Homo sapiens: one gene and its partners. The protein of the gene in region 1 purifies or fractionates together with the protein of each later gene. This does not show direct contact. Each region holds a gene or a part of one and is shown in the gene's direction. Other genes may lie near its edges.

The links. The genes of interacting proteins can lie anywhere in the genome.
Region 2: the proteins of CTDP1 (region 1) and SUCLG2 purify together in Homo sapiens (affinity purification with mass spectrometry; 2 studies listed by BioGRID and IntAct, with this or other methods). This does not show direct contact.
Region 3: the proteins of CTDP1 (region 1) and LTN1 purify together in Homo sapiens (affinity purification with mass spectrometry; 2 studies listed by BioGRID and IntAct, with this or other methods). This does not show direct contact.

Annotation. Positions count from the first base shown.
Region 1 is NC_000018.10:79,702,431-79,710,802, forward strand, and holds part of CTDP1 (RNA polymerase II subunit A C-terminal domain phosphatase), read left to right. Parts: intron 1-2,336; coding exon 2,337-2,487; intron 2,488-7,915; coding exon 7,916-8,006; intron 8,007-8,372. UniProt on the Homo sapiens protein: Processively dephosphorylates 'Ser-2' and 'Ser-5' of the heptad repeats YSPTSPS in the C-terminal domain of the largest RNA polymerase II subunit. This promotes the activity of RNA polymerase II.
Region 2 is NC_000003.12:67,373,475-67,379,240, reverse strand, and holds the end of SUCLG2 (succinate--CoA ligase [GDP-forming] subunit beta, mitochondrial isoform 2 precursor), read left to right. Parts: intron 1-2,735; coding exon of another isoform or gene 2,736-2,779; exon of another isoform or gene 2,780-3,381; coding exon 3,382-3,497; 3' UTR 3,498-4,522; downstream 4,523-5,766. UniProt on the Homo sapiens protein: GTP-specific succinyl-CoA synthetase functions in the citric acid cycle (TCA), coupling the hydrolysis of succinyl-CoA to the synthesis of GTP and thus represents the only step of substrate-level phosphorylation in the TCA.
Region 3 is NC_000021.9:28,982,134-28,990,505, reverse strand, and holds part of LTN1 (E3 ubiquitin-protein ligase listerin), read left to right. Parts: intron 1-3,571; coding exon 3,572-3,775; intron 3,776-4,268; coding exon 4,269-4,367; intron 4,368-5,583; coding exon 5,584-5,814; intron 5,815-8,137; coding exon 8,138-8,190; intron 8,191-8,372.

The DNA of each region.
Region 1 (8,372 bases):
TGACACGATCTCTCTATCCTGCAACCTCCACCTCCCGGGTTCAAGCCATTCTTGTGCCTCAGCCTCCCGAGTAGCTGGGACTACAGGCGTGTACCACCACACCCAGTTAATTTTTATATTTTTAGTAGAGACGGGGTTGTGCCATATTGGCCAGGCTGGTCTCGAACTCCTGACCTCAAGTGATCCTCCCGCCTCGGCCTCCCAAAGTGTTGGGATTATAGGCATTGAGCCACCACGCCCGGTGATTTTTAATAATAAAGTATTTTTAAATTAAGTTAGGTACATTGTTCTTTTAGATATAATGCTATTGAATGTTTAATAAGCTGCAGTAGAGTGTCAGCATGGATTATATTCACTGGGAAACCAAAAAATTCATGTGATTCTCAGTATCTCCAGGATAGGCCTGCTGAAGACAGTGGAGTCTAGTTATAATGTGGCTGTTTCTCAGTTGTGTGGTCTGGAAGGTGACAGTGTCCTGATGTAGTGGGGAGGGGGGTCTAAGCATGAACGGTCTGTCCTCTGCCTCCTCAGTAGCAGTAGTGTGCCCCACTTGACATCCAGAGGAGACCCTGAGGCTGGTGCCTGGCCCTACTGCTGGCCCCTCTGAAAGCAATTTCAGGGATCAGAAGTGGTGCTGGCCACAGCTCCCGAAGCCTGGACAGCTGCTGGACTTTTTACTGTTGAGTAATGGGAAAGTTGTTACTAGAACTTCTCACTCCTAAATATTTGACAGAGTAGCTTCTTCATGACGGTCGTGACTAACTTAGAGCTAGAAAAATGTAACTGGGAAAGTTGTTACTAGAACTTCTCACTCCTAAACCTTGAACAGAGTAGCTTCTTCATGAGGGTCGTAACTAACTTAGAACTAGAAAAATGTAACTGAGCTTAAGTCATCTACCTTTTTTTAAAGCCATTAAGAGTAAATATTTTACTGAGAAAATAACAGGATTTAAAGGATCGAAGTTTAGCTTCCTAAGGAAAGCAGACTCATTTGCATGTCGATCATATGTAAGCGAGTCGGTGTTGCTCATTTCACTGTCTACTAAATATGACTTAGAATACTTTCAGCTTTTATGTTGTATATGTAGATGAAAGAAACTGTCTGAAAATCACCCATGCGTTATACCAGGTTACCCGGGAATGTTGATTTCCTTTATTCAGTAGCTCAGGAAAACACTGTCAGCACGTGATGTTGGTGGAGGTCTGTTCCGAGCAGCTGCGGTGGCCTTGCTGTGTAACACGTATCAGCGAGGAAACAAAGGCAGAAGTGACATCAGTGGTTAGCTCATAGTTAGTGTAGGTTGTTACTGTTGGCGTGGTTATCAGGGGTGGTTATGTCCTAGGCGGTCGTTGCAGGTAGGTAGTTACCAGGAGTAGTTAGTGTAGCTATCATCGGTGGTTATGTAGTTATCATAGGTGGTGACTGTTGGCGTGGTTATTGGGGATGGTTATCGTGTAGTTATCACAGGCTGTTACTCTTGGCTGGTTATCGGGGGTGGTTATCCTAGGCGGGTCGTTGCAGGCAGGTAGCTATTGTGAGTAGTTAGTGTAGCTGTCATCGGTGGTTATCATGTAGTTACCGTAGGCTGTTACTGTTAACGTGGTACCCAGGGTGGTTATCTTGAACAGTTGTTGCAGGTAGGTGGTTATCCTAGTTACCACGGGCAGTCAGTATTCACACTCACTGAGGGCATTCCCGCAGCAGAGAAGGCCGCACTCACTCACTCGTACCGCGTGCATGGAAACTACTTACACAGTGGGTTTTAAATGCCACGGGTAGCCCCTTGCACCAGTTAGGGTCACGTCCTTATTTGGAGGGTCAGGCGGACATGCGTCCTCTGTCCCACGTGGAGAGGTGTGTGCACACTCCTATCCCCTGTCCCATGTGGAGGGGCGGGTGCAAACGCATCCTCTGTCCCACGTGGAGTGGTGTGTCCACACGCATGTCCTCTGTCCCATGCCCACGTGGAGGGGCGTGTACACACGCATGTCCTCTGTCCCGTGTGGAGGGGCGTGTACACGCACACGTGTCCTCTGTCCCGTGTGGAGGGGCGTGTACATGCTCACATGTGTCCTCTGTCCCGTGTGGAGGGGCGTGTACATGCAAACGTGTATCCTCTGTCCCATGTGGAGGGATGGGCACATGTGTGTCTTCAGGACGCCTGTCTCAGGCACCCGTGTGTCTTCAGGACGCCTGTCGGGCACACGCGTGTCTTCAGAACGCTTGTCTGGGGCACACGTGTGTTCTCAGGATGCCTGTCTCGGGCACACAGGTTGCGGGGGCGGCCGGGGCTCCTCAGGCCTTTTCTCCCGACTGTTGCTACTATTCTTTTTAGGGCATCTTTCACTTCCAGCTGGGCCGGGGTGAGCCCATGCTGCACACGCGCCTGCGTCCACACTGCAAGGACTTCCTGGAGAAGATCGCCAAGCTGTACGAGCTGCACGTCTTCACCTTCGGCAGCCGGCTGTACGCACACACCATCGCAGGTCAGTCAAGCCGCAGCCGAAGAGGCCGTGTGAACAGTGGGTTTCTTTCCTGTTTTCGGTGATGGTTTCTTAAAGATGAAGAAAGAAAAGAAGCTCTCCTGCAACTCAGTTGTAGTCTTAGGGTTGGCCGTTGTGCAGGGGGTTGTGAGAGGTAAGGGAATTCTGCCACCAGGGCTGTTGGGTGGGGCCGCGGCTGCTCTGGCCGGGTGCGGTACTGGGTGGGCCGCTTTGGGAGTTTGTCAGGACCACATGGGCACGTGGAAACTTCTGCGAGCGTCCTCCGACAGATACCTTCTTAAATCAGTTCACAGGGACTTTGGGCCGGGCTGCTTGTGTGTGCTCTTGCTGGGTGCTGTCACTGCACACAGCATGATTGTCCCCTGCCTACACATGGGTACCCTTAGGGTTTAGCGTTTGCTTCTGTCTCCCTGGGTGATAGCGTGAATGCCAGGCTACGGTGCCCTCTGGGAGGCAGCACCAGCAGGACGAATCGAGGGGACAGTGCCACGGGACGGTGACTGTCCCATGTGGATGCAGTGAGGGGACGCCACAGGATGGTGACCGTCTGTCCTTCATGGACAAAGCGAGGGGACAAAGTGGGACAGCGACCGTCTGTTCCACGTGGACGAAGCAACGTCTGTCCCACGTGGACGAAGCAAGGGGACAGTGCGGGACGGCGACCGTCTGTCCCACGTGGACAAAGCGAGGGGGCTGCCACGGGACGGCGACCGTCTGTCCCACATGGATGTAGGCGCCGAGTGGCAGTGTAGGCAAGCTCCTCCGTACTGGCTCCAGAGGTTGTTAGACTGAGCATTTTAAAATTCAAAGGTCTTTCTAGATTGGTCTTAGTCTTTTGTTGTTGTTGGGGAAATGAATTTTGAATCCTCCTTTAATATTTAGTGCCTTTATAGGAAATTGTGATCATGACCTTTAATTCCTCTTGTAATTGAAATTTGAAATATTCACCTGTAACATTATGGCTGCTGCTGCATAGCTGCCTGAGACAGATGATGTGAAGACGAGTAATTATGCACAAGGGTGATATTGCTCACTTCCTCGGGCCAGTGAAGAAATAATGCCTGCTATGATCTGAGGGTTTTACAGCCCCCAAGTCCATGTGTTAAAACCCAGTCCCAGGGCGAGGGTGTTAGGAGGGGCGTGGGAGGTGGTGAGGTCCTGTGGACTCCATCCTCGTGAATGGAATCAGGGCCCTTACCCAGGTGGGCCCTGGGAGCTGCGGGAAATGCAGCAAGCCGGCGCCCACTGACCTGCAGCCAAGTTGCTGGCGCCGTGGTCGGACGCCGGCCTCCAGAACTGTGAGGAAGGGACGTGTGTTCCTGAGTCACCCACACTATGGAGTTTCTTTAGAGCAGCCCAGGCCGACTAAGCTGCCCACTGTGTGGAAATAGACCCCCAAATCCCCATGTGTTCCAGCCCCAGATTGTGCCGTTGCAGCCAGTGCCAGGCACCTCCCAGAGGACAACCCATAAGTCACACAAACCGCAGGGACAGTGACGCCCACTCAAACCAGACAACTGAGCGGGGCATCACTCTCACAATAACAAATGTCAGGGAAAGACTAAAAACCAGAAAATTATTCCTCACGCTCATCATATCCATGGCTGTCCCCTATTCTCTGGTTTTTTTTTTGTATGTATAATTTTGCCTAGTTTGTCTTAATATATGTACAAGTTTACATACCGTTCTTTTCACATAAGATTTCATCACTAAGAATTTATCCATCACGTTGTTATAAATCTTCATCATTTTATGTAAGATTTTTTTCCCTCCTCTGTGGACTGGATCCTCTGGGTGAGTTCCTAAAACCAGGATTGTTCGGTGAGGGAGTGGTTCCTGACCCCCAGGACTGTGAGGACTGCACGCCGCATGGCCTGCTCCCTGGGAGGGTGACGGGTTTGCCTCCCGCCTCCCACACAAGGCGCACACCAGCGGGCACAGCCCGGTGACCTGCACGTCTGAGTCCAGGATGCCAGTGATGTTTCTTCTCCTCCTGTCCCGTCTTCCATACGTTGATCTGGTGCCCGTGCAAGTGTTTCTCATTTCGGATTTCCTTCTCCAGGTCTCTCTCTGAAGCTGGGCTTCTTTAGGTTCGCTGTTTCACACGTCTTGCTTATCCTTTCCTGAGGTGCATCGATGTTTGCTGGTCAGAGCACACAAGCCCCAGTGAGGAGGAGCATGTGGAAGGCTCGGATCTGTTTAAATGCTTGGCTGGAGGGGTTTGGGCTAAAAGCAGAGGGTCCCAGGTTTTAGCCGGGCTACACCCTTGCCACCCGTCACACCAGCAGGCAGGGTATGGGTCACCACAGTCTGATTCCACGTTCATGAGGCCTCGTGTGGTGAGAGATGAAGCAGGTGACGAGAACGCCATGTTTCTTTATCAGCCTGAAAGCTGGAGGGAGCCTGGGAGCTGCTCGCAGATTCAGCAGAGCATCCATGCAGACATCCGCAGGCCTCTGAGCCGCTTAGACAGCAGAGCAGGGAGCCTGCTGGTGGGCGCTTGGCTGCGGAGAGCCTCGAGCGCGGGTCCTCCTGCAGTGAGACCAGCTAGGTTTGTTGAGCGTCACCGGGCCGTCTGGTGCCTTCTCCGTTTCAAGCTCTGCTTTCTATGCTAAAGTTCCAGCATTCCAACGTGTCCAAGGGATGTCGGCCAAAACCAGACGAAGACATCACAAGAAAACTGCAGACCAGTATCCCTTTGAACATGGATGCAGAAATTCTCAACAGAACATGGGCCCTCGAGCCCAGCAACGCAGGAGGAAGACTGTGTCCAGGCTGTGGTTCAGGAAGGCCGAGCTTTGCTTCATTGTGGCTGGCGGGATCTGTAGAGATGACCTGGGTCAGCTTTTCTACAAGTGAGAAAGTGAGGTCCGGACTGAAGCCTGAGGTGGTCGCCGAGCATCTGCTTTTGATGCTTTTCATTTTGAAAGTGACCGTGTTGATAGCATGCGTGCTTTCAGTATGACTAGGACAGAGATGTTAAGAGTTTGCGATGCGTGTCTTTTATCTGATAGTAGAGACGCTAATAATTCTATTAACAGACTTTAGATCTAGCGACTTCATGGCCTCAGTGATCATCTGGAATTTACGCATAGTGAGAAACAATCGCATTTATTTCTCCTTTAAGCCCAAGTATCTTTTGGTTAATGAAATACTAACAAACCAGTGGTATCAGGGAACGGAAAGCTCCTGGCAGTACTGCATTTGAAACGTCTGGAGGTGGTGATGCTTCAGCCAGGAAGCAGGTTCATCTTCCCAGAAGATCTTACGGATCCCACAGTGCATTGTGCATAGTGCCGTGGGGCTGCAGGGTAACTGAGGTGGTGCACAGAGCAGCTCTTCTGTTTTAATTGTAATGTGTATGTTTTAACCTGTATCAAAAACAGCAAATGTGTTTCTCGCATTTGTGATCTCAGAGGTGGTGGTGCAGAGGTTGAGCCCAGTAGGGATGGGTGCAGGGAGTAGTTGATTAAAAGCCAGCGTGAAAACAATAGTGATTATGTGGAGTGCAGTCAGGGCACGTTCAGATCCGGAAGTGGACCCCGTGTGCCACGTGGGGACGTGGAGCCAGGCGTTCCGGGGTGCATTCGGATCCGGAAGTGGACCCCGTGTGCCATGCAGAGGCGTGGAGCCAGGCGTTCCAGTGAGACTTAAGTCTTGAGAGAATGTGGGCTGCGTGGTTGGACTTTGGGTTCACAGTGCTTTTGAGATGTCTCATCTACCTCCTTTGCTTCATGCATAACTAACGGTTATGCAGGGGACCTGCGTGCCATGACAAGACCACAGTCCCAGCTCCCGACTCTGGACCGGCTCACTCTTGTGCAATCCAGTCCCCGTTTTGTTCCACGGCACCTGCACGTGTCAGGCCAGATAGAGGTTGTGTGTTAATGTGTTCAATTTTCTTACAATTTCAGCCTCTTGGGAGAGTAATAATTATGTTGTATTCATTCCCGCACCTTATATTCCTAGCAAAATTCCAAGTAATGTTAAACTCAGTAAATGTTAAATGATCGAATACCCTTAAACACGTTATGTGGGTGCCATGGAATACCTATCTCTTGAGGTATGTGCAGATTTATGGCTTCAGCCACTTGTATGATGAGTAGCTGAAACATTTCTTTTTGAGGCTTCATAATTAACCGTAGCTTTTTCTCTCCAGAATGTTTTAAATGGCTGGTGAAATTAAATTGACATTGAACTTGATGCCTCCAACATATTTTACCAATGGAATAAATTACCTGAAAGGTTGTTTTGTTTTTGTTTAGTACCCCTACTTCTACAAACTGAAATATGTTTCCTATATACTCTGTGGTTCTTGTAAACTAACAAGAGATAACTTATTTTTAAATTATCTTTATTTAAAAATATGAGCACTTTACTGTAAATTGAAGACTTTGCAAACTTAGGAAGATAACACAGTAGGCTTAAAGTTCAGAAGATAAATTTATAGATCAAGAAACCCAGAGCAGAGGTGATCCCAAGAAACCTCTGCCTGATTTGTTGATTTTCACAGTGGTGCTTCCTGAAGTGTAGAAGGGATGTTTGCAGATAGCTTGGTTTTACTATCTTTAAGGAGTCGAAGCTGAGCATCAAGCATGTGAAGCTCTTTAGAAAATTACTGTTAAAAAGTTAAACTAGACTTGTAATTAACGGATGTCATGTGAAGTGCAAGTGTCAAATGTAGCCTAAGCGGATTCTTCGCTGTGGAAGCACCTTCTGCACTAGCTGGTCAAGGTGGTGTCCCGGATGTCCTTCCTTCCCAGTCTCCTCTGTCAGGCAGGCTTCCTCGATGTTGCCTAAATTACCATTATTAAAACGTGTATAATAGTTAGAAATAACCGGCCTTTCTGTGTATTTCTACAACACAGAGTGTGAGTTTGTATAATTCTACTAAAGTAACTTGGGAGAAGCAAACTTCCTTGATAACCTTTCCTCCACTAACCATTACAGATGAGAGCAGTGGGCCACCCGCCTGGGGTTAGGAAAGATCATATCCGAGGTGACGCAGAGTAATTTCAGCTTAGTGTCCAGACTCCATCACGTGAAGAACCACATGCAGAGTGTTTTGAGATCAAATGATGACTTACCTGTTTTACTTATGCAAGTGCCTTCCATAATTTTCATATCCATCTGGTTTAGATAGGCACTTCAGTAAGATATTACAAATTTTTCATGTTAGTAGAATTATAAACACTTATCAACATGGTTTGTGTTTGAGAAATAAGTTCACCATAAGAGAAAAGAAGCCCCACACGAGCCACGTCTTACCTCAAAAGGGATGAAGTGTTTGGTGCCAGTTCATCATGTTGTGTGTCTGCCACTTTAAAAAAAACATTCAAGGCTTCACCATGTGCCGTGTGACCGAAACGTGTCTCAGGTATGTAATCTTTGTCCTGTTTTCTTTTCCAAGGCTTTTTAGACCCCGAGAAGAAGCTTTTTTCTCACCGAATATTATCAAGGGATGAATGTATTGACCCATTTTCTAAAACGGGAAACCTTAGGTATGTACCCAGCCGCGCTCCTCACAAAGACCTCGCTGTTCATTTCCCATTTCAAAAATCGCATCTTGAAATTTAGAGCAGTATTTCTTTTTTTCTTTTTTTTTGAGACGGAGTCTTGCTGTTGCCCAGGCTAGAGTGCAGTGGCGCGATCTCGGCTCACTGCAAGCTCTGCTTCCAGAGTTCACGCCATTCTCCTGCCTCAGCCTCCTGAGTAGCTAGGACTACAGGCACCCACCACCTCGCCCGGCAATTTTTTTTTTTTTTTTTTTTTTTTTTTTTTTTGTATTTTTAGTACAGACGGTGGTTTCACTGTGTTAGCCAGGATGGCCTCGATCTCCTGACCTCGTGATCTTCCCGCCTCAGCCT
Region 2 (5,766 bases), on another chromosome or scaffold:
GGTACGGTGGCTCATGCTTCTAATCCCAGACTTTGGGAGGCCGAGGCAAGTGGATCACTTGAGGTCAGGAGGTTAAGATCAGCCTGGCCAACATGGTGAGACCCTATCTCTACTAAAAATACAAAAATTGGTTGGGAGAGGTGGCCACTGCCTCTCATCCCAGCTACTCAGGAGGCTGAGGCAGGAGAATTGCTTGAACCAGGGAGGTGAAGGTTGCAGTGAGCTGAGATCACGCCACTGCACTCCAGCCTGGGTGACAGAGCAAGACTCTGTCTAAAACAAAATTTACACGTGTAACTGTCATTTACCTTCTGGTCCAAAGACTGGTTTGCTCCTGTGTCCATCAGGGCTTTTGTTTCACACTCTGTCATTACTCCATGAAAGCCATGCTTTGATTAGTTTCTAAATTCCTTAGCCTGCTATCTAACACCTGCCACAGTCAAATGAATCAAAGTGCACGCAGGTTGTGTTAATGAAATAATACATTTTTACATCTGTGTTACTTACCTATCAGCACTTAACAAATTACCCCAAAATGTAGCAGCTTAACAAAAAGAACAGTTATTATCTCACAGTTTCTGTGGTCAGGAATCTGGGTGTGGCTTAGGTGGATCCTCTCACTCAGGGTCTCTCACAAGGCTGCAATCACAGTGTCAGCCGAGCTGTAGTGATCTCAAGGCTTGACTAGGGAAGAATTTGCTTCCAAGATCCCTTATATGGTTCTTGGCCAGATGCACTTCCTCCTTGGCTATTAGACCCAGAGCCTCAGTTCCTCATCAGCCGTTGGCCAGAGTTTGCCCTCAGTTCCTTGCCCAGGTGAGTCTCTCCAGAGGGCAGCTCATAGCAGGGTAGTTTGCTTCATCAGAGTGAAAAAAGAGTTAAAGGGAGCAAGACTGAAGCCACAGGCTTTTGTAACCTAGTCTCAGAAGTGACACTCCATCACTTTTGCCATGTTCTTATCTATTAGAAGTAAGGCTGTGGGTCCAGATCATACTCAAGGGGGACGGATTCTACAAAGATGTGACTACCAGGAGGCAAGAGTGATTGATCTTTGAAAACCATTTTAGAAGCTGCCTTCCACAGCATTTACAAAGTCATATGTTAGTCAAAATAATGCTAGCTCCTGTAACAACAGAAAAATGCAGAAATTTCAGAGTCTTAACATTATAGAAGGGTCTTTCTCATTCCCATAAGGTCTAAGAGGGTGAGTGGGTAAGATGCTTGGCTCCAGAGAGTTATTAAAGTATCCAGGCTGAAGGAGTCATTGCCATCTTCAAGAAGTGATTTGGCTGGGTGCAAGGGCTCATGCCTGTAATCCCAGCATTTTGGGAGGCCACGGCAGATGGAGTCCTTGAGTTTAGGAGTTCAGGACCAGCCTGGGCAATGTGGAAAAACCCCATCTCTACAAAAAATACAAAAAATAGCTGGGCGTGGTGATGTGTGCCTTTAGTCTCAGCTACTTGGGAGGCTGAGGTAGAAGGATCACTTGGGCACCGGAGGCTGAGGCTGCAGTGAGCTGAGATCACACCACTGCACTCCATCTTGGGTGACACAGCGAGAGCCTATCTCAAAAACAAAAAGCAAGACAAAACACAACCAGAACCAAAAAGGTGACTTCCAGGGCTGCCCCAGCTAGGAACACTCCAGAAAGCAGACAAGGAAAACCGAGTGTGAAGAGTCCCTTTGGAGATTGTCATGGCCATGTGACATTCCTTTGGCCTGAACTCAGTCACATGTCCCCTTCGAGATGCAGGGGGGCCTGGGAAATGTAGTTTCTGGCTGGGCAGCTGCTTTCCAGCAATAGCACTCTACTGCAGAAGAGGAGCAGGAGTCTGTGGTGCAAAGCCAGCCAGGCCTGCCACAGATACTGCACCATTTACAAAAATGCTTTTACACTCATTTCATTTGCTTCTCATCACAATCTATACCATCAGCTATACTGTCCTCATTTTTCAAGTAGGTAAGCAGACTAGCATATCTTTAGAACATGCAGCGTTTATAATTACAGAGAACAGTTCAAGTCCCATCTCTGACACTTACCGCCTCTGTGACCATGGAAAAGTTATTTAACTTCTCTGTGCCTCAGTTGCCTTATCTGTAAAATAGGAACAATAGGACTACTCATAGTTTTTGTAAAGATTTCATATGCTGTGTATAAGTTACTTAGCACTGTGCCTGGCATACATAAGCACTTAATGATATTAGTTCTTGGGAAGATTACGAGGATGATAGTGCTCTGTATGGAAACAAAAGTTAAGGCTCAAAGAAGTTAAACGATTTACCCAAAACTACATAACAAGTACATGGCAGAGCCAGCATGGAGATTTTAGGTAGCAGCTTCCCACATTTTATGCTTTCACCTTCCAGAGAGGACTTTCACCAGCTTCCTCTGTAAAAACAGGAGTAGGTGAGCCTTAAGGTGAAGACACAGTGCCAAGCGGCCATCTTCACTGCTGCTTGGGTAGACCCAGGGTCCCAGGGGAATCAGTGCTGCATCATCTTTTCAATCCACCCATTTCTATTTAATCCAGCATTTGCCTCTTTATATGAAATGTGCTGACCCAGTGCCTCTTTTTATCTGCACTCTTTGTGGTAAGGCAAGTTCTCCAAGGCCTATATTTCAAGGTCTTTGTTTATAAATAGGCTCTGTCTTGCCAACTAGATAAAAGCACAGGAAATGATGTAGGATGAGATATTTCATTAGACACTTAAATTCTATTACATTTCTCCTACAGGAGTTGTTCACTCTAAAATGGCAGAAAAGCAGTTCTCATGTTAAATAGTCCCCAAGCACACCTTTGAATGAAGTGACTTGGCCAGAAGATACTCCAGATCCACCAGGAACAGTCAAGAGATTGCCATCAGAGGCTGCTTTGCCCGTTTTGAAGGGCTCAGCCCATTTCATTTTATAGAGTGAGGAGAAGGCAGAAATGGACATGCTGGATGCGCCAGAGTCTCCAAAGCAGTGGATTTGTGGACATAGCTGGGCAGATTCTCGGAACTTCCTTTCTCAAATCAGGTCACAGCCCAAACCCCTGATGACGTCTGAGAGGGCTTTAAGACAAGTGACTTCTGGTGTGGGCCAAAACCGCATTAAATCCACATGGCTGTGATTATCAGCAGACAACTCAGCTTCCATCAGTAAAATATGTTCATTTCCCTCTTGCAAGCCCTTGCTTTCATCTTCTTTTCTAGCTGGACCACAGCTTGAGATAAATTTCATCACATAATCTTTTCTGTCAGTGACCTTGATGAGAACCTATATTTAATTCATTTCCTAGTGAAAAGCTGTAGACAGGTGAGTCTTGTGTGTCCTTGTGCAAACTTCATAAGGCGCCACCTCTAGTTTCATTCAGTGATTGTTCCCTGTCCCCCTTCTAGGAACCAACGTCCAAGAGGCCCAGAAGATACTCAACAACAGCGGACTCCCCATTACTTCAGCCATTGACCTGGAGGATGCAGCCAAGAAGGCTGTGGCCAGTGTGGCCAAGAAGTGATGTCTTTGTCCTGATCCAATGGAGAAAGAAAGCCATTTTTCCGTAAAAAGGGATGGTTCATCATTGTGAAAGAAATGGTTATCTCATTGGGGAAGAAAAGGGGAGGGGGAAGGCAAGAATCACTGAAAAATCTTAAATCTGTGTTTTCTGGAATAAGATATCTAGACAGCCTAAATCTGATTTTGGTCTTTATAAAAATAATATCTTGTGTTCTCATACTTTTCTGTCACTGTAAGCCTGCCCAGTAGGCAGTGTTTTGCAGACTTTGGGGAGTGGTCTATGTGGCCAAATATTGTGTGTATAGACAGAATTTGAAATCAAGTCCTGCTTCATTTACAAGAATTTTGGTGGGCATCTAATCCTACATAATGAAAAAGAAAAACAGACCATTTAAAAACTCAGACAAGATTATATTTAATATATTAATTACTAAAAAGGCATAAGATTACACTGAACATATTAGCTACTAAAAAGGCACTGCTAAGACATTCAAGCAAATAGCTATTACACACTACTGCAGATTTTACAGGTTTCTAATTCTAACATATGTTTGAAAAATCCGTGAGTATTCCAAAATATATTTAATAATGGAATATCTGCATTAATATACCATCCATGTGTTTTTACCATTTGCCTTAATATTGAATATACTGTTTACCTCACACTAAAAAGAAAACCAGAAGCCTTATTTGTGATTTTGGGAGTGGAAGCTTCCATTTTTGTGTCAAAAATGAATCCTGATTCTTATGGAAATCTCTGTTATTAAGATATTTCAAGATGAGACAACACTGAAGATCAAATTGTGTTTAGTATCACTATCTTCTCTCCTCGTTTCTCTCTTACTCCTCATCCTCCCAGAATCTACCAGTTTATGGTAGAAAGATGGGAACCTTATTTGAATGTGTTTTTTTTTTCCATGATGTCCAATTTTGTTGTGGGAAAGGATTTGGATAAAATTTTTGTTTAAATTTTGGTAGATTTTTATCTATACAAATTTAAATAAAATTATGTTTTGTAAGCTGTAAGATCTGTGTGTATCTCTCATTTTACTCAATTTTATTCCTCAAACATTTTTTTTTTTTACAAAGACACTAGTCTTAGTGTCTTAGGTATGCCTCTAAAATTTGATAATTTGGGTCATTCCAGGATTATTCCAGTTCCACTCAACTTTATCAGATACCCATTTCTGTGTTAGGAGATTATTGAATCCATAAAAGTTATACACAAACCAGAACCCCAGGAATGTATCTCAGATGTCTGACAGGTTGAACTGTGATGTCAGTCTGCGTAACGCAAAGGGAGATACTCCAGTATAACTCATTCCATTAAGTGAGGCTCAATTGCCACCATTAATTTTCCTTTCAGTGTATAAATATGTAGTAGACCAAACTATTTTGTTTGTTTTTTTTACCAGCTTACTTTGTTCTCATAAATTTTATGTGTGGACAAAAGTATGAAAGTCATTATTGTTTAGAGCCATGTTTGCCATGGAGAAATAAACTATTGGATAGATCAGTCTTACATCCTTTCTTAATGCCCATGCAATGAATGAAGAATATTAACAATGTCTTCTTAGTTGTGTTTTGGTTTTTGATAGCTTAATCACTAGTTGGTGCAGTAAAAAAAATAACCTATATTATGTCAACTAGACAACATTTTTAAATTTTTGATCTCTGAAGAGGACTATGTTTGAATCACTTGTAAATATTGATGTTTCCAGTCAACCCAATTTGGAGGAGGGGATAAAGCAATTAAATCATTTTTGTGATTATTTCATAAAAGGGTTAATAACAAGGAAATAGCCTTTTATTTTCAAATAAGCTCAAAGCCATCAGAGCTTGTTCTTTTTGCATCCTTAGCGTAGCTTGTCTCTAATTGTTTTATTCTCAGGCAGGCCATTTTTACAGGTGGATAATGGCTGCTGGCCATTACATGTGAGGTTCTCAAATTTAGCATCCTCAGAAGAGAAAGAGAGAGGGAGCAGAGGGAAAGAGAAAATAAATGAGCAAATAAACGAAAGAAAGAGGGAGGAAGGAGAGAGGAAGGAAAGAAGCTTCTCTTGGTAATTCTAAGACACCTCCCAAAATTGAATATGACTCCAGTGATCAGTTTCAGGTCAGTAACCTATTCCTGAATCTGGCCCCGGTTCATTTACAATAATTTTTGTGGTCTTCTATACAATAAATATAGGCCATAAAAAACTCAGACAAGTTTACATTTAACATATTAACTACCTGATATGGTTTGGCTGTGTCCCCACCCAAAATCT
Region 3 (8,372 bases), on another chromosome or scaffold:
GGTTTGAGCACCCTTTGATTCTTGCTGGAATCAGTTATTACTATGGTGATTTAAAAACTTATGCTTAATCATGAAAACAACCCAACTAATGAATTAATTACTCATATCTCATTTTAAATGTGGTGAAACTGAGGTTTAGAGAAATTAGCTTGCCTAAGCTCATGTAGCCAGGAAGTTGTGGAGTTGGGATTTTAACTTTAATGTGGCAAAGTCTTCAATAGAAGACTCTGATACTGGATGTCAGGTATTCAGAGATAATAGATGTCTGCTGTTCTTGAACTATTAGTTTGATGATACAGACACATATGTAAGCAAATGTTAAAGAATTATGATGCAGGTATTAGAAGAAAGAATGTGGGAGAATGGAAGAGAATGGAGGAAGGCAAGTGTTGCAAACATGAGTTTGAAAGATGAGTAGGAGTTTGTCAGACAGTGAAAAGAAAGGAAGCGTTTTCAGGTAGAGAAAAAAGGTTATATAAAGATCAAATTGTGAAAGGCCATCACATAGATAACTTTTTTTTTTTTTTTGAGACAGAGTCTCGGGTCACTGCAACCTCCACCTCCCAGGTTCAAGCAGTTTTGTTGCCTCAGCCTCTCGAGTAGCTGGGATTACAGGCATGCACCATCACACCCGGCTAATTTTTTGTATTTTTAATAGATACAGGGTTTTGCCATGTTGGCTAGGCTGGTCTCAAACTCTTGGCCTGAAGTGATCTGCCCAAAGATACGCTCAGCCTCCTAAAGTGCTGGGATTACAGGTGTGAGCCACCATGCCCTGCCTCAGAGAACTTCGAATTCAGTTTGCTACTAGGGCATGAATGATGGCAGCATAATTTGAAGAAGGGAGAAGGAAGTGGGGCAAGGGAAGGAAAGAGTGGCAGGAGATAAGACTGGGAAAAGTTGAGGTTAGATGGTGAAAGGTCTTGTAAGTCTTCCTTGGTTTGGTCTTTGTAGACTCAGGATTGCCACCACAAATAACTCTAGAAGCTAGGCATGAAAGAGTGTAGACAGAAGTAGGCATAGTACAAAAAAAAAAATAAGTGCCATAAATAGAATTGTTTCTTAATTTTTATTGAACTATGGGTATAGCACTTAACATACAAAGATCATAAGAGTAACTATATTTTAAATTTAAAGTAGACATTAAAAAAAGATAGTGCATTTAAAAGTAACTTGTTACTTTTAAATTGGAGACTGGAAATTTGATACCTTCTCTTTTGCCCCTAGTTATCACTCCTAATTCTGTTATTTCAGCCTCAACTCCTTTAGATGTTAGCAATAATTAGTTTTTTATTCTGTTTCATAATAAAACCGTTTACACATGAGATTGTAGAAAATTCTGATACCCTAAAGTCATCATATTTAGTTTAAGAATTATAATTCACTAACTACTTCCTTTGTGGCTCTTTATTCATGTACCAATATTGAGAAAGGTGAATTGAATAATTAATATTAATTCATTTTAATAAACTTAAAAAATAGAGAACAGCTGCTTTGCCTATGGAGTAGCCATTCTTTTATTCTTTTCTTTTTTTTTTTTGAAATGGAGTTTCGCTCTTTTTGCCCAGGCTGGAGTGCAATGGCGCAATCTCGACTCACTGCAATCTCTGCCCCCTGGGTTCAAGCAATTCTCCTGCCTCAGCCTCCCAAGTAGCTGGGATTAAAGGCATGTGCCACCATGCCTGGCTAATTTTGTATTTTTAGTAGAGACGGCGTTTCACCATGTTGGCCAGGCTGGTCTTGAACTCCTGATCTCAGGTGATCTCCCTCCTCAGCCTCCCGAAGTGCTGGGATTACAGACGTGAACCACCGCGCCTGACCTATTTTCTTAATAAACTTACTTTCACTTAAAAAAAAAAATAGAGAACCTTTTTTGGAATTAGTCTTAAATGCTACAGATTGAAAACAAATGTAATGCAGGCCATCATTTTCTTTCCTGTTCACTCAGTTCAGTTTAGGAAGTAGGCCAGATTATTCCTTGTCAGATGAATTTTCCAAACACACTTTTGCTAGGTATTAGGAATTTTTTTTTTTTTTTTGAGACAGAGCCTCGCTCTGTTGCCCTGGGTGGAGTGCAGTAGCACAATCTTGACTCACTGCAACCTCAGCCTCCCAGGTTCAAGCAATTCTCATGACTCACCCTCCTGAGTAGGTGGGATTACAGGCACATGCCACCACGCCTGGCTAATTTTTGTGTTTTTGGTAGAGACAGGGTTTTGCCATGTTGCCGAGGCTGGTTTCGAACTTCAGGGCTCAAGTGATCCACCCGCCTTGACCTCCCAAAGTGTTGGGATTACAGGCATGAGCCACCTTGCCTGGCCGGTATGAGCAATTTGTTTTTTTTTGTTGTTTTTTTTTTTTTTTGAGACAGAGTCTCGCCCTGTCACCCAGGCTGGAGTGCAATGGCACAATCTTGGCTCATTGCAACCTCTGCCTTCCGGTTCAAGCGATTCTCTTGCCTCAGCCTCCCGAGTAGCTGGGATTACAGGCGTGCGCCACCACGCCCAGTTAATTTTTTGTATCTTTGGTAGAGATGGGGTTTCACCATGTTGGCCAGGCTGGTCTCGAACTCCTGACCTCGTGATCTGCCCGCCTTGGCCTTCCAAAGTGCTGAGATTACAGGCGTGAGCCACTGTGCCCGGCCGGTATGAGCAATTTGAATCACACATTTGGATAACCGTTGGCAAACATCCTTATAGAGAAATAAGAAATAGATGACTTTAGATGGGTTGTGATGTCAGCTTGGTGGTCAAACTGAAGCATTTTCTGTTTAGATAACAATAAGTTAATTTCTTTTAGCAGTTCAAATATTTTCTTTCTCTGTATCAACTCACCTCCTTTTAGTAGAAGACTACTATATTGTGTATCAGTCAAAGAAACCACTGACTATGATTCAAAACAAAGGAGTCTGTATTATAGATTGACTGTTGTATTGATTTTTATGGCTATAATAATGTAATTTTAGCCCAAAGAGGTTAGGCTAGGCTTTGGAGTGTGTGGAAATGAGTGTATCCACTCTCAAGGAACTCTCAGTCTAGAGGCAGCTATCATTAGACCTGGGCCATTGTGATTGTTTAATAAATATTTGTTCATTTAATGGGTGAATGAAAGGATGGGTTCTATTTATGAGTTCATTTTACATCATTACATAGTATACATATGTGTATACATACTATTTATATGAAAGTTAGAAATAAAAAATTCATAACAGCATTTATGAAAATTTTCCTGCATGTGATACATTCTGATTTTAAAAATTTTAATCAATTTCTTTAAAATTCTGTCATGGTCCATTATATTGATATCATGAGCCACTAATGGATTGTATCCATGGTTTACAAAACATTCTAATGTTTAAGAAACAGAATAATTTCTAGGATCAGTATTGATGGATTCTTGGCAACAAAACCATTAATCTTTGGGGAACTTTGCAATAGATGAAATTTTAGGCTAGGAAAAAAGAAAATAAAATAAAAGCTCATTCTGACCATGGGAATAGCCAAGGAATTATAAAGTTAAGTTTTGAACCCTTCCTGGACTCTGACTTTTTTCTCCGTAATTTTCTTATCAGCCTTCAAACAGTGGCCGAGCTGCAGAACTCCTTGCCAAAGAACAGGGAACAGTGCCTGGATTTATTGGTTTTGGAACATCTCAGAGTGACCTAGGCTATGTTCCTGCTATTCAAGGAGCTGAAGAAATTGACAGTCTTGTAGATTCTGATTTCCGAATGGTGCTGCGGAAACTTTCAAAGAAAGATGTCACCACAAAATTAAAAGCAAGTTTTCTTGTTTTCATAAAAATTATCAAGAAAATCCCTTTGTTAAAATAAAATGTCATTAGCATGTTTTATGTAAAGAAAAATGAACAATTTATTGCTAAGTTCTTTTATAATTGTACTTTTTTCTGACACAGAGTCTTAAACTTAGTTGATATTTATTTTCTAGGTCGTAAATTAGTTTGTTACAGTGAACTTTTTTAAAGTGCTTTGGAATTTTGGCTGTATAGTTTTTCCCATTAGGGAATGTAACTTTGACCTTGTAACTTTAAATGAGGTTTTTTTGTTTGTAGATGTTTTATTTTTAAAAAAACAACTGAAGAGTTTCTACCGTAGTAGCCTGTGAAAGAGCTCTTCAAACTAGTCTCATATGGCATAAAGAGAAATAGTGTATTCTCCTATTACATAAAATAGACAAAGCTTCCAGAACAGAATAATCTATAGCCAGTTATTATGGTTGTTAATCCTAATGATGTTAATAACTTACTTTTAGGCTATGCAGGAATTTGGAACCATGTGTACAGAGAGAGACACAGAAACTGTGAAAGGAGTTCTTCCATATTGGCCAAGAATTTTTTGCAAAATTTCACTTGTAAGTATTAAAACTTTGCTAGTTTATTTCTGTTGTATATTTTTTGGTTGGAGTCATGGAGACTCTCAAATTTATAATGTTGATTTTTGGTGAGGGTTATTAAATGTTATGTCAGCATTGTTATGCAGATTGAATTGTTAACACTTGAGAAGAGCGTGGAAATAAAAAAAGAGATTGGGGCCTGGTATGGTGGCTCATGCCTGTAATCCCAGCACTTTGGGAGGCTGAGGTGGGCAGATCACTTGAGGTCAGGAGTTTGAGACCAGCCTGGCCAACATGGTGAAACCCTGTCTCTACTAAAAATACAAAAATTAGCCGGGTGTGGTGATGGATGCCTGTAATCCCAGCTACTTGGGAGGCTGAGGCAGGAAAATCGCTTGAACCCGGTGGGGCGGAGGTTGCAGTGAGCCAAGATTGCACCACTGCACTCCAGCCTGGACAATAGAACAAGACAATGTCTTTAAAAAAAAAAAAAAAAAAGATTGGATTGTGTTGGGTTATGAAGAACATTTAGGAAGTCTGTTTTCAGAAATTAGGTTGTTACTGGAGAATTACCCAGGTGCTTTCCAGTTTTAATAAATTTTGATAGTGATTTTATTCCCTGTATATTTGCTGCAGAAGAATGAGAGTGAGTTGCTTAATTATTGAAGACCCAACTTTTTTTTTTTTTTTTTTAATTGAGACGGAGTCTCATTCTGTCACCCAGGCTGGAGTGCAGTGGCGCGATCTCTGTTCACTGCAACCTTGTCTCCTGGGTTCAAGTGATTCTCCTGCCTTAGCCTCCTGAGTAACTGGGATTACAGGTGTGTGCCACCATGCCCCGCTAATTTTTTGTATTTTTAGTAGAGACGGGGTTTCACCATGTTGGCCAGGCTGGTCTTGAACTCCTGACCGCCAATAATCCGCCTGCCTCGGCCACCGAAAGTACTGAGATTATAGGCACGAGCCACCAGGCTCGGCCTCAAGGCCCAACTTTGAATCTGTCTTGAATACAATCCTATCTCATTGGGAGAAGGGGAGAAAGAAAAATTAATAAATTATTTTACATAGTTTCTGATTTAAAAACCTCCAAATTATTGATTTAAAAAAAATGATTTCAGTTTAGCTTAATACATAGGTGAATTCTTGGTAATGGGTCATTATAGCATATCCGGAAATGTCTGTGATTGTTTTTATGGGCTAGAGCTATTTTAAATCACATTTATATTTTTAATAGGATCATGACCGTCGCGTCCGAGAAGCCACACAACAAGCTTTTGAAAAACTTATCCTTAAAGTAAAGAAACAGTTGGCTCCCTACTTAAAAAGTTTAATGGGATATTGGCTAATGGCTCAGTGTGATACTTACACACCAGCTGCGTTTGCAGCAAAAGATGCATTTGAAGCGGCTTTTCCTCCAAGCAAGCAACCTGAAGCCATAGCATTTTGTAAGGATGAAATTACAAGTGTAAGTTCTGGAATCATTCTGAATCTATTTTTTTTTTTTAAGTATTTAAGGGTTATAAGCATAATGACAGCTCTTTTACTTGGGATTGTAGGGGAATGAGTAAGTAGAGTATTTCCAACTGAAGGTTGCCTTTTTAAAATTCTGTTTAGTTAAATAACCATTTTGGATCTTTAACAAGATTAACATTTTGGATTGGATCTTTCTACAGTATTTAAATTTTCCATTTTAATTTTGAAGTCTTTATTATATTTTTAAAAAGTAGATGTTTTATGTAATCTAAACAAGTAATATATCTAAAAATAAATCTAAAATTATTTTCTCTCGTGTTTCCATATCAATATATATATATATACAGATCTAACTTAGTGTCTTTTTCTTTTTATTGGCTCTCTGGTATTACTATACATGGATGTACTGTAGTTTATTTAACTTTTTAGATTAATATACATTTGGATTTTTTTCCAATTTTTATCATAACAAATGCTATTTCAGTAAACATTCTTGAGTAGATCTCTTCATACCCTTGTGGGAGTGATACTTACTAGAACTTCTAGTAAGCATATGTTGGGCCAAAGAATAAGAACATTAAAATTTTTTATAATGATAAATGGCCCTTCAAAAGGCCAAACAAATTTATACTCCCATTTTCAGATAAAGTTTCTCCACACTGGGCTAACACTTTTGCCATAACTTTCTCATAAAAAGTTACCAGCCATACCTGTTTGTGGCTTTCAGTGTGTCTGTTTCTAGTAGTGTCTCATTTCTTCCCCCTTCATTTTCTATTCCCAATATATGGACTAGAAAAACCAGACAACAAAGTTGTTAGAATTATATTGAGAAATAAAAGTAGATGAAGTAGAAGTGAGGAGGGAATTGATAATTTTTTAAAAAATCTATGCTTGCATTTATTCCCTTATTTAGTACTCCTGTGTTTCCACAACACCCTGTGTATAACCCTACTTAAACATTTCCATCTGACCCTCTCCCCCTGCTTTCCTTCCTCCTTTCAATTAGCCATCCTTCCTGTGGCTCTCCATTACACTTTTAAGTTCAAATTTCTTGTCTTGACATACAAGGCTCTGCATGATCTGGTCCCTGCTTCCCTATCTAATCTCTTCACCCAGCACTCCCCAACACATAACTTGATTGTAGTACCTCATTTAGGTTCTTCCATTCTTCATTTCTCAGGTGTACCAAGCGTGTTTTTCTAGAGAGAGGGTTTGTAGCTTTAATCATATGCTCAAATGGAGTTTTCTAACCCATCTGTAGCATAAGAATCATTGGTTGATTTAAAATGCCAAGTTATAAACGTTACAAGAGTGAAGTGTCATGAGTTTGGACGCTAAGAGCTTTAGGAAATGGATTTTGAGACAACTAGTTTGGCTCTTCATAGGCTTTAGAAAATAAATTTGTTCTTGGCTTTGTCATGGATGGATAACTAATCATTGAACATTGGGTTATTTCTTCCATTTTATTTTCCCTTTAGTTGGCTATGTTACAGTTCATTACAGCTGTTGGCATTGAACTGTCTCCAGTTCCAAACCCATGTATTAGAGAGGAGTTAGGCAAATGAAAATCAAAATGTCAGCATTATAGATAGTATATCATACTGTCTATAAGACATGGGCTCTGGGTCACACCATTGGTTCTAGTCCCACTCTGCCATCAGCTAGCAACTAGGTGTGTGACCTTGGGCAAGTTTCTGTGCCTTCATTTCATAATCTATAAAGCAGGAATTAACTTGTACTTCATGGAGTTCTGAGGATTGATTTAGTTAATGCCTAAAATGTGCTCAAAGCAATACCTGGCACATGCAAAAGCTCAATAAGTGTTAGTTATTGTTATTGCTGATAAAGCAGTTACTGGAACAGTGGACTCCCTTGCACTGCACCCCAGGAGGAAACAGACTTCCGTATATTTGAAAACCTCATACCTTCCTCTGTGATGGAGCAGAGCACAATGTATGGTGTTCTTTGTGGGCAAGCAGGCTTACAGAAAGAGGGGAGAGGAAAGCAGAGCCTAATTTATCTCCCAGATTCACATTCACTTCATTGCTGTGTGAAAGAGAAATGGAGGAACAAGTGGTCAGGAGTATTTATAGGTGCGTGGGGAAGAAGTATCTAAAGCAGCTAACCTTGGGAATTGATAGGAAAAGGAAAATTGGTAAAATTCAAACCTTTCAGTTTTGCTATTTGATTCTGCTCTTAGGTAAGATGATGTTTATGGGGATTTTTAAAAAGTGGATTTTATTTAACTAGGCTCTGTCTGTTCACCATTGACAGTTCAGTAAAACCAAAGGCTTTGGTATTTCCCCCCTTTGTAGGTGCTGCAGGATCATCTTATAAAAGAAACACCTGATACACTCAGTGACCCGCAGTAAGTTGTATTGTTTCATTGTAACTCATGTTAAGGATTTGTTTCACTCATAAGTAATCAGATGATTTCAATGTGACTTTTTGTTTTTGTTTTTTTTTTGAGACAGAGTCTCACTCTGTCACCCAGGCTGGATTGCAGTGGCGCAGTCTCAGCTCACTGCAACCTCCAGCTTCTGGGTTCAA